Linked DNA regions of Homo sapiens: region 1 is linked to region 2. A link means that fine-mapping ties the variant in region 2 to the expression of a gene that starts in the linked region. Tissue or cell type: whole blood. Region 2 holds a variant in brackets; the other region holds the start of a gene. All regions are shown on one strand. Distances are between the middles of the regions.

The links. PIP is the estimated chance that this variant, and not a neighbour inherited with it, causes the effect.
Region 1: it holds the start of ALOX12, and the variant in region 2 is fine-mapped to the expression of ALOX12 in whole blood (TOPMed, PIP above 0.99).

The regions. Positions count from the first base shown.
Region 1 is chr17:6,992,981-7,000,980 of GRCh38, forward strand. ALOX12 (arachidonate 12-lipoxygenase, 12S type) reads left to right here and starts at 3,069. Exons shown (of 14, transcript NM_000697.3): 1 at 3,069-3,272; 2 at 3,846-4,047; 3 at 5,529-5,610; 4 at 5,735-5,857; 5 at 5,973-6,076; 6 at 6,326-6,486; 7 at 7,356-7,499. The coding sequence starts at 3,138. The region is part of intron 2 of ALOX12-AS1 (ALOX12 antisense RNA 1); the gene reads right to left.
Region 2 is chr17:6,915,867-6,924,128 of GRCh38, forward strand. No RefSeq gene overlaps it. Among named protein-coding and RNA genes, the nearest start is that of ALOX12, 76 kb to the right of the region's middle. The variant C/T (reference allele first, on the strand shown) is at 3,363.

The DNA.
Region 1 (8,000 bases), 77 kb after region 2:
CTCACTCTTGTTGCCCAGGCTGGAGTACAGTGGCACAATCTCAGCTCACCGCAACCTCCGCCTCCCGGGTTCAAGCAATTCTCCTGCCTCAGCCTCCCAAGTAGGTGGGATTACAGGCATCCTCTACCACGCCTGGCTAATTTTTTGTATTTTTAGTAGAGATGGGGTTTCCCCATGTTGGCCAGACTGGTCTCAAACTCCTGACCTCAGGTGATCCACCCACCTCAGCCTCCCAAAGTGCGGGGATTACAGGCGTGAGCCACCGCACCCAGCCAGAAAACTTGTAAGTTATTTTCTGTGTCTTCAAAACGTGTATAAATATTTTTAGAAGCCACACAGCCTCTTGCCAGCTTTACTACCCAGGGATGTCTTTCACAAAGACCCAGGAGCCATCTCCTTGAAATGTAAACACCAAGAAAGATGGAGCCTTCATTTCCCAGTTTCTGTGGGAGGGTAGGACTAACTTAAATGGACACTTTGCTTGAGCTGCAAAACTATCTGCTGTCATAAAAATCTGAAAAGCTGGCTGGGCATGGTGGCTCACGCCTGTAATCCCAGCACTTTGGGAAGCCGAGGTGGGTGGATCATCTGAGGTCAGGAGTTTAAGACCAGCCTGGCCAACATGGCAAAACCTCGTCTCTACTAAAAATACAAAAACTAGCCAGGCTTGGTGGTGCACACCTGTAATCCCAGCTACTCAGGAAGCTGAGGCAAGAGAATCGCTTGAACCTGGGAGGTGGAGGTTGCAGTGAGCCGAGATCACGCCACTGCACTCTAGCCTGGGCAACAGAGCAAGACTCTATCTCAAAAAAAAAAGAGAAGTTTTTCTTCTGATTAAGCCAGTTAGCTAACATAGATGGTCATCACAATTGCCAGGTGTCTCTAGACTGCACTATATGTGACAAATGGTGCTATCGAGTCCTCCTAAAGATTATTTATAGTTTATCTTGAGAACACATATGTAATGGGCTGTATCTGCTTGGCTAGATAAAAGTGAGACTTCCTTCTGTCTTTGCAGTCTCTTAGCAAACTGCCTGTGATGTGCTCACATTCTGGTTTAATGCTTATTCAATAATAAAACTGTTTTCTTTCTTCACTACTTTCGTGGAGAGGTTTTTTCTGGGTTGGGAGAAAATTTTGCTTCTAATTATATTCTCCCAACATAGCGCATGTGCTTAAAAGGGAAACAAAAGCAGGAGGGGGAAGGGTCTAGAGTGATAAGAGCTCTAGTGAGAGGCTAGGCCTAGAGAGGGACATGGAGAAATAGCATGCGGAGAGGAACGGTAGAGGAGCAACGCTAACATTCAGTTGTAAATAATACAATCATAGCAGCTAATACATAGAGGGACTACACGCCAAGCACTGTTCTCACTGTTTAGCCATATTCACTCATTTAGCATGCGCAGTAGCTTGAATCCGGTTTTTCAATTATTCATTCCCTCTCTCTGCACGTGGCCGTAGAGTACACTAGAGTGGGCAGAAAATAAGTCACAAAACAGCAAAGAAACAGTGCTTTTGGAAGTAGGTATGAGACAAACTCTTTTCTAGGCAAAAGTAACCCACGAAAATGTGTGTGGAAAGGCCAGATCCTACTATTAGGCAGGATGGGAATTTGAGCCATTTTATTTGGATATTACAGAATGGGGTGACCCCAGAAAACTGGAAGAACTGGGGACCAGCAAATGGCCGACCTGCAGTCCTGAGCAGAGGATGTAGGCCAGAGTGGACCTAGAAGATAAGAAAGGGAATTGAATCCAGTAAGGGACAGACACTTTATTTTTTTATTTTTATTTATTTATTTATTTATTTTTGAGATAGAGTCTGATCTGGAGGCTGGAAGGCGGGGCTAAAACTCCCACTCACTTACCTCTACCAACAACTAGGCCACCAAGTCATTTCTGAGGACTGGCTCAAGAAAGCAGATTTAACTTACACTGGCCTAGCCCAGGCCACCAGATGCATCCACGGAGATCCAAATGCATATAATCACTTGAATCAAGATCTAGACAGGGACGCGTGCAGCAGGCTTCATCTGACTGATTCCTGACACGGGAGAGAAAGCCTAAGCTCCGAATCATCCTTCAATGTTTACAAAGGCCCTAAATAGCAGTGGGCTAATTGCTGTTCCTGGATTTCCAGGAGACCTGAGACCCATGAAGGAGCAGGAAAGAGCTTGGGGATAAAAAATTAATCTGGAACCTACTGGAGCGGAAGGGGCTGCACTCACCTGGAAAAGACAAAGTTCTTGGGAACTGGCCACGTAGGCCAGGTCCCTAAGCAATTCCATCCCGCACCCTAACACCCCGACTGGTGTTCCTGGGTCCCTAACATTGTCTGTACCCGCTTCGGAGGTTGGACAAAATGAGTTTTTCACTGCCCTGCCTCAGGCCTCTCTCAAAGGTCTGGCCCATGATATTTGGTGTACATTGGGACCCCAGCGCCCAGATATTTGAAACGGGGTGGGGAGCGGGTGTTGAGCTGCTACATTTCCAGGTTCTAGGTACCCTGGGGAACCCCTGGTCGTTGACGGAAGCACAGCGTTCAAGGGCGGCAGAGCTCAGGTACTGGAGGACACATGGGCCGCGCCGGGTCTAGCCGCGGGACATCCCCAGACCCCAGCACGGCCTCCCAGGCCGACCTTCCAGAAGCCGGCCCACTGCCTTCCCCGGGTCCCAGCCCAGAAAAGCGGAGACCTTCCCCTCCGTTTGGAAGATGGACTCATCCCCTACTTCCTCCTGGCTCCCCAGAAGACCTGGAGACCTCGGGAAGTGTTCTCATCTATGTTCGCTCCAACCCGGGGGCTCAGGCCCACCTCGATCCCGCCTTCCCGGGAGGTCCAGGAAGGTCCCGCCGCACCCACCCCGTTGGCCTCACCCTGGCTCGGGCCCCTTTATCATCCTGCAGCTACGCTCCGACCAGGAGGCACAGCCAGTCCCCACAGCCGGCTCTACCGCTCTGCTCGCAGGTTTGGGCTAGTCTGGGGCGGGGACTTGGGAGCGCCTAAAACTTGCGAGGAGGGCGGGGCCGCAGACCGGTCCTTTAAAGGTTGGAAGTGGCCCCGAGGCGCCGGCAGCCCTGGGCGGTCCCGGGAATCGCACAGGACCCGGCTCCCCTCGCCTAAGCTGCTGGGGGGCGCCATGGGCCGCTACCGCATCCGCGTGGCCACCGGGGCCTGGCTCTTCTCCGGGTCGTACAACCGCGTGCAGCTTTGGCTGGTCGGGACGCGCGGGGAGGCGGAGCTGGAGCTGCAGCTGCGGCCCGCGCGGGGCGAGGTCAGCGCGGGGAGCGAGGGGAGCTAGGGCAGCGGGGACCCCGGGCCCAGGCCCGGGCCGAGCTGGGCTCGCGGCGGGAGGGCGGGAGGCTGGGGGCGAGGTGACAGCGCGACCTCGCGGACTGGGACTTCCACGAAGCTGGGACGAGGTGGGCAAGATTAGGGACAGGGTCCGCAGCTGGGATCCCGGGCTGGGCTCAACCCCATCTCCCTTTCCCGCCCCTGGTCCCGGCAGCCCCCAGCTCCTTCTCCCAGTGACCCAGAGCCAATGTAAGTATGAGGCCAGAGGTCAGACGTGAAGCTCCTCCAAGAACCGGCGCGGGGAGAGCTCAGTTAATGGGACCCACGTGGGCGATGCTGCTCCAGCATCAGCTCCAGGCGCTGCGGGCCCTCGTCCTCCACCCGACTCCGGGCGTCTGAGACCCAAAGAGCAGGTTGTGCGGGGGCGGGAACGAGGCGATGCTGTCTTTGGAGGCCCTGAGAAACTGAGGTTGCACAGGAGCGCGGCTCTGTCCTCGAAACGGCCTCAGTCGGGTCCCTCCTACTAAGTCTGGCCTGGGTCCGGCCTGCACAGGAGGAGGAGTTTGATCATGACGTTGCAGAGGACTTGGGGCTCCTGCAGTTCGTGAGGCTGCGCAAGCACCACTGGCTGGTGGACGACGCGTGGTTCTGCGACCGCATCACGGTGCAGGGCCCTGGAGCCTGCGCGGAGGTGGCCTTCCCGTGCTACCGCTGGGTGCAGGGCGAGGACATCCTGAGCCTGCCCGAGGGCACCGGTGAGCAGGCGGCGTCGGGGAAGGAGGCACAAGGTCTCGGGAACTGCTGCGGGGCTAGGAGGGCAGAGTTAAGGACGGTCGGAGCAGACTTAGAGGATGTATGGGCCCAGGGCAGGTGAAATGTAGGGATCCCAGGGTGCTGGACAGAAAACGGGAAGGAGTTATGAATTCCCAAAGTTTTACACAGGCTAAGAGAGGCTGCGTGTGAGGCTGGAGGCAGGGAGTAAGTGATCTGGAGATCCCATCTTCCAAGAAGGCAAAGACAGAAAGTGGGAGTTGCAGCGATCCAGGAAAACAGAGAAGCAAAGTGAAAGTAGGAAGGAGATGTAAAGGTGACTCAGAAGTCAGGTGAGGGGACCACATGGAACAGGAGGGGGTGGGTGACCCGTGAGAGCAGACAGCTAAGGGAAGAAAACATAGGATGCTGGAGAGCTGGTTTGGTTGGAATAACACGGAAGACACCCGTGAAAGACAAGAAGCACACTGGCCCGCAGGAGACGAGGAGGAATGAGGATGGCAAATAGTGAATTTTTTTTTTTTTTTTTTTTGAGATGGAGTCTTGCTTTGTTGCCCAGGCTGGAGTGCAGTGGTGCGATCTTGGCTCACTGCAACCTCCACCTCCTGGGTTCACGCCATTCTCCTGCCTCAGCCTCCCGAGTAGCTGGGACTACAGGCACCCCCCACCACACCCGGCTAATTTTTTATATTTTTTTTAGTAGAGATGGAGTTTCACCGTATTAGCCAGGATGGTCTCGATCTCCTGACCTCGTGATCCGCCCTCCTTGGCCTCTCAAAGTGCTGGGATTACAGGCTTGAGCCACCACGCCCGGCCCAAATAGTGAATTTTTAACCATGGGTAATGAGTAAAAGAGAGATGAATCCAGAGATGAGTGAGGGCAGTAGGGATGGAACATCAAATCTATGACTTTGAGACAGGTGAGTGTAAATGCAGAAAAGACCCAGAATAAGTCCATAGATACAGATTATGATAGTAAATCCAGAAAGATGAGGTTTAAAAAAAAAAAAGCAAATGTAGAATCTTTTGAGGACAGGTGAAGGCGTGGCAGGTGAGGTTTAAGATGTGAAATTAATCAAAGCAATCTGTAGTAGACAGTAGGTGTAGGTGTATAGGTGACTAAGATTTCATCACCTTAATTAAGGTGATTTTTTTCCAACCATAGATATTGATGAAGTAAGGCCAGGTAGGGGAAGATGAGTGAAGGAGCAAGAAATGGTGGCAAACAGGAGGTTTTTATCTACAGGCAAAGGATGAGGGCTGAAATAAGAGAAAGCAGGAGTGCAAAGTTGGCAAAGATGGGATAAACGTGTCTGGTGGATAATCAAATGAGGCAAAGCCAGAGATAAAAGCAACAGTGCATGGCTGAAAACATGGAATACGGCTAACCACAGGGAGATGAGGACAAGAGGCGGGCATAGGACCAGACAGAGCCGTGAGGCCAATTGTCTTGATGTCTCCCCAGCCCGCCTGCCAGGAGACAATGCTTTGGACATGTTCCAGAAGCATCGAGAGAAGGAACTGAAAGACAGACAGCAGATCTACTGGTGACCACCCACCCCTTAAACTAACCCCGCCACCACTGTCCCACCCCTTCCCTGCCCCTGCCCCTGCCCCTGGCCCCATCACTGACCATGACATCCTTCCTGAAGCTTTGTCCCCAACTCCTAGCTGGGCCACCTGGAAGGAAGGGTTACCCCTGACCATCGCTGCAGACCGTAAGGATGATCTACCTCCAAATATGAGATTCCATGAGGAGAAGAGGCTGGACTTTGAATGGACACTGAAGGCAGGGTGAGAAAAAGGCTAGACCTCGGAGTGAAATAAGGGCTGGGAGGGCCAAGAATGATGATAGACGGTGAGGGACTGAGGGATCAGCTGATGAGTTAAGCCTCAATACCTGTCCTAGGGCTCTGGAGATGGCCCTCAAACGTGTTTACACCCTCCTGAGCTCCTGGAACTGCCTAGAAGACTTTGATCAGATCTTCTGGGGCCAGAAGAGTGCCCTGGCTGGTCAGTGGTTCCCCGAGGTCTCCATAATCCCTTAATGGCCCCTCTGGATGACTCATCACACTCCACAGTCCCCCGTAACTCTTTGCAAGAAGAGACCTTATCATATCTGGTCAACTCAGAGAGGCCTTGAGAATGAAAACGCAGAAGCTGGGTTCAGGGAGGGTTATATACCTGAACCCCTGGGGTAGATTTTGGAGAAGGGATATGCAGGCTGTGGTACATATATCCTCCTTTCACCGCCCACCAAAGAGAAGGTTCGCCAGTGCTGGCAGGATGATGAGTTGTTCAGCTACCAGTTCCTCAATGGTGCCAACCCCATGCTGTTGAGACGCTCGACCTCTCTGCCCTCCAGGCTAGTGCTGCCCTCGGGGATGGAAGAGCTTCAGGCTCAACTGGAGAAAGAACTTCAGGTACCTCTCCTTCCCCTGCCTGGCACTGTTCTCTCCTTAGTAGTGTGGTGAGAACGGACAGAGAGAATCCAAACTGAGTCAGAGGAAGGCTGCAGTACTGCATTGCCCCTTGGTGCAGTCCTGTGCTGGAAAAATACAGAAATAAAATATGTAGGGGAAGAAACTATGAGGAGCTCCCAGCAGGAAGGGGAAAATAGAATGGATCCCCAGCACACAGAGAGGGGCTGGAGATGTTAGCAGGAACAGTGACATTGCCTGGCCGCAGTGTTCTGGACTCCAGTGTTCATGGGCAGGGAGAAAAGTGAGGAAGTGCCATCAGGTGGGGAGAATCGGGGAGGCTTTCTAGAAAAAGAGAGCGGGGTTTGGAAGCAATGGACTGTACTGAGGACAAGCCTAGGCAAAATGTGTGCGTATGCATGTGTGTGCTGTATGCGGTGGCAGGGGTAGTAGGGGAAGCTCTCTGGAATATTTGGCAGAGGATGTGAGATTTGAATAGGGAATGAAAGAGCATTTGCTGAGCTGATAGGAGCCAAAACCAGAGCGCAGACCATTCGGGAATGATCAGAAAGGGGCCTGGCCATTTGACAGGTGGTCAGTTTACAATGCCTGTGATGCCAACTGGATTGAGCAGGCCTGGTTCCAAACCCAGATCTGCCACCACATCCACACACAAGACATCTACCCTCACCAGACTGTTTCTTCACTTTAAGATGAGAGGAACTGGACCAGGGGCTCTAGTTCTCCCAACAGGGCTCCGGTACTGATGCAGGAGAATGGCAAGAAGCTAGACTAAATCTCTTGCCCTTTGCCCCGGCCCCCTGGGGGTAGACTTTGAACTCTAAAAATGGATACATCCCTCCTGTCCCCAGAATGGTTCCCTGTTTGAAGCTGACTTCATCCTTCTGGATGGAATTCCAGCCAACGTGATCCGAGGAGAGAAGCAATACCTGGCTGCCCCCCTCGTTATGCTGAAGATGGAGCCCAATGGGAAGCTGCAGCCCATGGTCATCCAGGTAAGGGCCCCAGACCTCTCCCACAACGTTGCACTCTGTTCACCTCAACCTCTGCTCCCAGGGACCCAACCCCCAGCTCTTGGCTCCCAAACCCCATCCTCACTCAGTGAGACTTGTCTTCATGTCACTATTTGCCTGTACCCTCGTCTCCCCTGCCTCATCCAACTAGAATTACTTTTTCAAGAGTCAAAATGGCCTCCTGGAGTTCTCATCCTGTATCCAATGGTCCTCACACTTCAGTGTGCATCAGAATCACCTGAATGCCTGTTGAAATGCAGATTTCTGGATCCCATGACCAGACTTTCTGATTCAGTATGTCTGGGGTGGGAACTAAGAGTTTGCGTTTTTATAAGTTCCAAAGTGATGCTGACACTACCAGTTCAGGACTACACTTTCAGAATCACTATCTCATCTCTCAGTGGCCTCTGGCTCTGAACCCTCGCCATCTCTTGAATATCTTTTCTCGCAATTTCTTTTTTTTTTTTGAGACAGAATCTCACT
Region 2 (8,262 bases):
AGTAAATAAAATACTGGGGGAAAATAAATAAATAAAAAGTGCATGAGATGGGAGAAGGAGATAAGCTTTAAGAAACCTCTACCATTCCAACCCCCTAGGAGATAATGGAATGGAAAACCAAACACTGTATGTTCTCACTTATAAGTGAGAGCTAAGCTAGGAATACGCAAAGGCATACAGAGTGATATAACGGACTTTAGAGATTCAGAAGGAGATTCAGGAGGGTGGGAAGAGGACCAAGGGAACAAAATCTATGCATTAGGTACAATGTACACCATTCAGGTGACGGGTGCACCAAAATCTCAGACTTCACCGCTATATAATTCATCCATGTCACCAAAAACCACCTGTACCCCATTAATAAATTAATAATAAAATAAATTTTTAAAAAAAGTTTTAGCTCACTGAGTGAGCTTGCAGCAGAATGGAGACAGCAAAGGAAACAGTCAGTGAATTTGAAGATAGCTCAATAGAAACTATGCAATTTGAATGACATCAAGAAAAAATTGTTTAAGTAAATAGAGTCTCAAGGACATGAAGGACAAAACCAAAAGGTCTAACATTCATGTCATCAGAGTCAAAGAAAGATAAGAGTGTGTGGTGCACAAAAAAAATAAATAACGACTTCCAATTTTTCAAATTTCATAAAAGATATAACTTACAGCTTCGAAAATCTCAACAAATCACCAACAGGATAAAACAAACAAATCCTCATCCAGATAATCACAATCAAACTAGTGAAAACTAAAGCCAAAGAAAAAAATCTTGAAAGCAAGCAGAGAAAAGCAATGTATTTCCCATAGAGAAATAATAATTTGAATGACTGCAGGGTTCTCATCAAAAACAATGGAGGCCAGAAGATTCATCTGACAAAGCACTAATATCCAGAATCTACAACAAACTCAAACGAATTAGCAAGAAAACAACAATCCCATCAAAAAGTGGGCTAAGGACATGAATAGACAACAATTCTCAAGATATACAAAATGACCAACATATGAAAAATGCTCAACATCACTAATCAGGAAAACACAAATCAAAACCACAATGTGATACCACCTTACTCCTGCAAGAATGGCCATCATCAAAAAAATCAAAACATAATAGACGTTGGCACGGATGTAGTGAACAGGGAACACTTCTACACTGCTGGTGGGAATGTAAACTAGTACAACCACTATGGAAAACAGTGTGGAGATTCACAGAGAACTAAAAGTAGAACTACCATTCGATCCAGCAATCCCACTACTGGGCATCTACCCAGAGGAAAAGAAGTCATTATACAAAAAAGGTACTTGCACACACATGTTTATAGCAGCACAATTCGCAATTGCGAAACTGTGGAACCAACCAAAATGCCCATCAATCAACAAGTGGATAAAGAAACTGTGATATGCATATACACATACATACGATGGAATACTACTCAGCCATAAAAAGCAACGAGTTAATGGCAGCAACCTGGATGCAACTGGAGACTATTATTCTAAGTGAAGTAACTCAGGAATGGAAAACCAAATATCCTATATTCTCACTCATAAGTGGGAGCTAAGCTATGAGGATGCAAAGGCATAAGAATGACACAATAGAATTTGGGGACTCAGGGGGAAAGGGCGGGAAGAGGGTGAAGGATTAAAGAACACAAATTGGGTGCAGTGTTTACTGCTCAGGTAATGGGTGCACCAAAATCTCATAAATCACCACTAAAGAACTTACTCAGGTAACCAAACACCACCTGTTCCCCAATAACCTGTGGAAAGAAAATTTTTTTAAAAAAAGAAAGTAGAATAATATTTTTAAAGTGCTGAAAGAAAAGAGCTATCAACTCAGAATTCTATATCCAGAAAAAAATATCTTTGAGAAATGAAGGTGAAATGATGACATTCTCAGATGAAAAGAAGAAAAAAAAACTAAGACAATCAATTTCCAGCATATGTAATCTAAAAGAATTGCTTAAGAAATTTCTTCAGACAGAAGGGAAGTGATGTGAGAAGGAAACCTGGAACACGGGGAATCAAGCGAGAACAACAGAAACATTAAATATCTGGGTAAATATAACAGACTATCCCTCTCCTAATGAGTTCTTTAAAATATATTTGATGGTTAGAAGCAAATATTTTAACATGACTAAAAGATTTTTAATATACACAGATGTGATTAATGGGCTGACCATCTGAGTTCATCTGCTCTCAGCCAAAAAAATAACCACGGCTTCTCCCTCTGCTCAGCATGTCTTTTCTCTACCATGAGGTTCTACTTCTTTGTAACTTCTGTTCCCCATGGCCATCTTGGCCCCTCTGGCTTCTCTCCGTCTTTGTTCCTATTGCTAACTGCCTGATCCTCTCTGTATTTTCCAGATCAACACACACACACACACACACCCATAGTGAGAAACTGACCCTGCTCTTTTGTCTGGGGAGTGGTCCCATCCAAGTACACCTCTGACTGTGGATGGGGCAGATTTCCTTATAAGGGGATGGCAGGTATTATGATCGCCATGTAGAATTCAGATGCATTAAACATTTTGTTATTCTGAGAACCATGCCACACATTTACACCCCTCTAAGCCTTGATATGGTCTATTCCTTCTTCCTGGGATTTCTTTTCCTCTTTGCCTAGAAAACTTGTACATATCCTTAAAAATCCAACACGAGGGCTCAGTCACTCCTCCTTTCTCTTCAGTCCCCATTGCCCTTACATCCAACCTCTATTCAAGTATTTAATATGCTCTTTGGACACTGGTTGTCTATACATTTGTCGCCCCAACCAGACAGCTTGCTCCCAAAAGGAGGCATCAGGAGATTCTCATTACTATATTCCTACTGCCCATTAACCGTTATATTCATTCATGTCTTGTCATCCATTCAACAAATATTAATTGAATGTCCACTGTGTGTCAGCCTCTGTATGAGGCACTGGAATGCAAACGTGAACAAGTCAGAGTCCCTGCCCCCTCGGAGATTAGCGTGGACCACACTGTGTCTGGCACATAGTGAATGTTCAGTAAGTTATTTTTAAGTTGGATCGTACTTGCTTATAGTTCTCTACCAAGGAGCCCTTTGACCTTTCTCAGACATCAGAGCTTTCACAGATGAAAAGGAGTGGAAAGTTAAGTGGGCCATGATTCCCAAAAGCACCTCAGACTTGGTTATCAAAAACCAAGCAACTCTTCTAGTCCTTATGTGTCCCACATCTCAGCAAATACACACACATCATATACCTAGTTACCCCAGCCAAGAACCAGGGAGTAACAATGACCAATCTTTCCTTCTCTTCTGCTCTCTCTCACACAGTCTACTCTTTCTCTTTCTCTTCCTGTCATCACCAATTAAACAATGGAGTCCTGACCGCTCCACTTCCTT[C/T]GCATGTCTTCCACCCTGCCCGTCTCCATTCCTGCTTCCCCTGCTTGCTGCAGGCCTTTATTATCTCTCCCCAGCACACCAAAGACGTCTCCTCATGGGTCTCCTGTTTTCTGTGCAACCACATCACTCATCTCTTCCTGACCCAAAATTCATGAATTTCCCTGAAATTTCATCAGCTCCCTGCAACTCTTGCTGTCTGTTTGCCCAGAATGCCTACCCTCTCCCCAACTGTCCTTCATTCCCATCAACCCGGTAGATATCTACACAGATTTAAAGACTCAGCTCAAGTTGCCTCCCTGAGAAGCCTTTTCTATCTCCTCGAGGTGAACCTATCCCTCCCTGCTTTGTGCCCCCATAATACCCCACACGGGATTCTTTCTCCATTGTAACACACTGTTGCATTTACTTTTTATGTCTTTGTTTCCCCCCACTAGACTAGGAACTCCTTGAGGGAAAACAAAATCTCTATGTTCTCAATGCCTGGTGCATAGTATATGCTCAATAAATACTTTTCTGAATGAATCCAGTAAACAAAATACTTCCCTGTCTTTGGCCTTTGTGAAACAAGCAGCTAGACCTTCCAGGACGGGCTTCTTTGAGCCTCTACAAGAGTCAAATTAAGTAAGTAATTCACTGGGTTGTCTGCCTTTGTAGATCTGAGGAGGCCAAACTCCACCTAATTTTCCCTACCCTGAGGCCCATCTGGTTCTCACCCAACAACTTCATGAGCACATCCAGATGGTCCCTCTAACATGAGCACTGCCAATGACATGTAGGACAGTCTCACACAATCTCATACTCGTATCCCTCTTCTGCGATCTTAATCCCCAAACCCAATTTTGCCTCTCCTTTAACCCTGTGTCCCCACCACAGTTTTATCCTTCATCCATTCCTATAACATGTCCCCTGTTTATTCCCCAAACTTTATCTTCTTGCCTTCAAACCTTCAACCTATGCATAAGCATAATCATTCTACATAAAAGCTATTGAGACTAGGCATGGTGGCACATGCCTGTAATCCTAGCACTTTGGGAGGACAAAGCAGGAGGAATGCTTGGGGCCAGAAGTTCAAGACCAGCTTGGGCAACATAGCCAGACCCCCATCTCTATGAAAAGTTAAAAAAAAAAAATGGTAGCCAGGTGTGGTGGCCTGCACCTGTAGTCCTAGCTACCTGGGAGACTGGGGCTGGAGGATCCCTTGACCCAAGGAATTCAAGGCTGTGGTGAACTATGATCATGCCACTGCATTCCAGCCTAGGTGACAGAGAGAGACCCTGTCTCTCAATATATAAATAATTTTTTCAAAAAGTTATTGAACATCTATGATGTCCAGATCCTGTGCCAGGCACTGAAGATAAATAGAGAAATAGAAGGTAAATAGAGATAGGTAGAGTCTCTGCACAGGGGAAACTCAGGGAGGCCAAAGAGATAATATATAATATGTAAATACCAACCCAGTCTATCAATAAGCATTGGCCTCAGGTTTTGGAAGGGTCAGTTCCATGGACTGTGGAGGTGGTCAAAAAATGCTTTGTGTGTGTGTGTGTGTGTGTGTGTGTGTGAAGATGGGGTCCCACTATGTTGTCCAGGCTAGTCTCAACTCCAGGGCTCAAGCAATCCTCCCACCTCAGACTCCCAGAGTGCTGGGATTACAAATATGAGCCACCACGCCCAGCTAAAAGAATGCTTCTTGAAAGAGACAGGGCTTGACTGGGATTTGAGCTGGGAAAAAAGTTCTTCAACAAGTTCAAAAAAAAGGAGATCAAAATTTCAGATTGAGTTAGTGGCTCAAGGAAAGACCCAGGAGTCAGCAAATGCAGTGTTTTAAGAGACCAATAACTAAATGATTTGGGCTGGAGTGGAACACGGGCGTGGGAAGAGCAGGAGGTGAGTCTAGGAAGACAGTTTGGTGGTAGACGGTGGGAGGTATAATTACCAGGATTAGAAATTGGGACAGTGGCAGGTAAGCAAGAAGGTGAGGAATTCTGTGTTCAGGAGGAAGAGGATTAACACGTAAATAGCATTTTATAAAGGTTCATGTGGCAGCTGTAAGGAGATGGGTTGGAGTGGGGACAGATTCATGGTAGGAAGTCTATCATGATCTAGGTGGTAAAATAGACTGAAACTATGGGATGGAGGAGAAAGATATTACAGGAGAAGAACCAGTTAGAGCTGGATGTTAATGAGAAAAGTCAAGGATAAGGCCAATGTTTTGAGCCCATGACTTTGGGTATACACAAATGCCAGTGATAAAAAATGGAAAGCTTAAAGAAGGAAACTGAGACAAATGACTGACTTTGGTCGTCGACAAATCTTTATGAGCAGTGGTGGGTATGAGATAAAGGAAGAGATGTCCAGCAAGTAATGGCAAATCCAGACTTGGAACTTTTGAGAGAAGTCAGATATTGAAGAGGAGATGAGGGAGCCACCTGCGTGGAAGAGGAGACCTGCAAGAGCAAAGGATGTGGAGGGAAGAGCAGGACTGAGCCTTGAGATCCGCCTTTTCAGGAGGAGGAAGGGGGCCAGGCGCCGTGGCTCATGCCTGTAATCCCAGCACTTTGGGAGGCCGAGGCGGATGGATCACCTGAGGTCAGGAGTTCGAGACCAGCCTGGCCAACATGGTGAAACTCCATCTCTACTAAAAATACAAAAATTGGCTGGGCACGGTGGCTCACGCCTATAATCCCAGCACTTTGGGAGGCCAAGGCAGGTGGATCATGAGGTTAGGGGTTTGAGACCAGCCTGACCAACATGGTGAAACCCCATCTCCACTGAAAATACAAAAAAATTAGCTGGGCGTGGTGGCGGGTGCCTGTAATCCCACCTACTCAGGAGGCTGAGGCAGGAGAATTGCTTGAACCCGGGAGGCAGAGGTTGCAGTGAGCCAAGATCGCACCACTGCACTCCAGCCTGGGCAAAGGAGCAAGACTCTGTCTCAAAAAAAAAAAAAAATACAAAAATTAGCCAGGTGTGGTGGTGCACGCCTGTAGTCCCAGCTACTCGGAGGCTGAAGCACAAGAATCGCTTGAACCTGGGAGGCAGAGGTTGCAGTGAGCCGAGATCACACCACTGCACTCCAGTCTGGTGACAGAGTGAGACTTTGTCTCAATCAGAAAAAAAAAAAAAGAGAGAAGGAAGGGGAAAGAATAGAGAGCCCACCTGGAGGTTAGGAGGAGAACCAGCACAGGGACGAAGCAGCCAGTGGCAGAGAGAGGTTCGAGGCTTAGGAGGTTGGTGTTGCCTGGTATCCTGTAAGTTTGTATTCTTATGGTTTGTATGCACAGGAAGAAAGCATGTGAAGAAATACACCAGATTGTTAGGAGCAGTTAAAAAACAAAAAGCAAACAAAAAAGTGGTGAAAAGGAGCTGAGGATGTTCCCTTCTATTGTCCATGAATTTTTACAATTAGTAGTGATTATTTTAATAATTATCCCCACTGCCACGCCAGCCAAAAAGCAGTGGTGACAAGTCACTTTGCTCTCCCACATCTCTCTCTCTCTCTCTCCAGCCATGCCTCTTCCCTCCTTCTCAGCACCCCGTCTCTCCCCCAGCACACCCCTAATCTTTCCACTCCAGGCTTTAAACTCTTTGACATAGTTTCCTCCAAGTGTTGGTCAGCTACTCTTTGTGGGGAGAAGAGTAAACTGTCCCAGGGGCCAACATAAAAAGAGAGCTTGTTTCTGCCTCTAATGTTTTGTTCATGGTGGTTCCCGTACCTGTTACTTTCCCTCCACTTATTGTTTCCAGCATTTTTTTTTTTTTTTTTTTTTGAGACAGAGACTCACTGTGTCGCCAGGCTGGAGTGCAGTAGCGCGATCTCGGCTCACTGTAACCTCCACCTCCTGGGTTCAAGCGATTCTTCTTCTCAGCCTCACAAGTAGCTGAAACTACAGGCACATGCTACCACACCCATTTAATTTTTGCCTGTAGTCCTGGCAACTCAGGAGGCTGAAGTGGGAGGATCGCTTGAGCCTAGGAGGTGGAGGTTGTAGTGAGCTGAAATTGTGCCTGTGCACTCCAGCCTGGGTGACAGAGTGAGACCCTGTCTCAAAAATAAAAATAGTAACATACAAGAGTGGTTTCTTAGTTATGACAATTGACCAGTCATGTGAGATGAGAACATCAGGAGAAGCAAACTGGGGGAGGGGAATACAAGAACTCTCTGTTGTCTTCATTAATTCTCTGTGCGTCTAAAATTATTCCAAAATAAAAAGTTTATTGAGAAAATACATTAGCAACATGGAAAATGCTTATGATATAATATTAAATGAAAAAAAGGATGACAGGTATCTGCTCAGGGTAAAAAAGAAGATAAATGGGGAGAGAAGGAGGAAGTGAGAGTTGGCTTCCTCCTACCTGTCCCACCTCGTCTCAACTCCCTGATTCCATTCTTGCTGATGCAGCCGCCCAAAGGAGTATCTGCCACTTTATTTCCTGCCAGTTCAAATCCCATCCCATCAGCTCTCATTAAGAAACCCTTTCCGGCCGGGCATGATGGCTCATACCTGTAATCCCAGCACTTTGGGAGGCCAAGGCGGACGGATCACCTGAGGGCGGATCACCTGAGGAGTTCGAGAGCAGGCTGGCCAACATGGTGAAACCCCGTCTCTACTAAAAATACAAAAATTAGCCGGGCATGGTGGCGGGCACCTGTAATCCCAGCTACTCAAGAGGTGAGGCAAGAGAATCACTTGAGCCCAGGGGGCAGAAGTTGCAGTGAGCCAAGATCAAGCCATTGCACTCCAGCCTGGGTGACAGAGCAAGACTCTCTCTCAAAAAAAAAAAAAAAAAAAAAAAAAAAAAAAAGAATAAGAAGGAATAGAAAGGAAGGCAGAGTACTGATGACATCTGATCCAGCCACACCTTAATCCTATTGACCTCAGACTTAGCTCTATGAGCC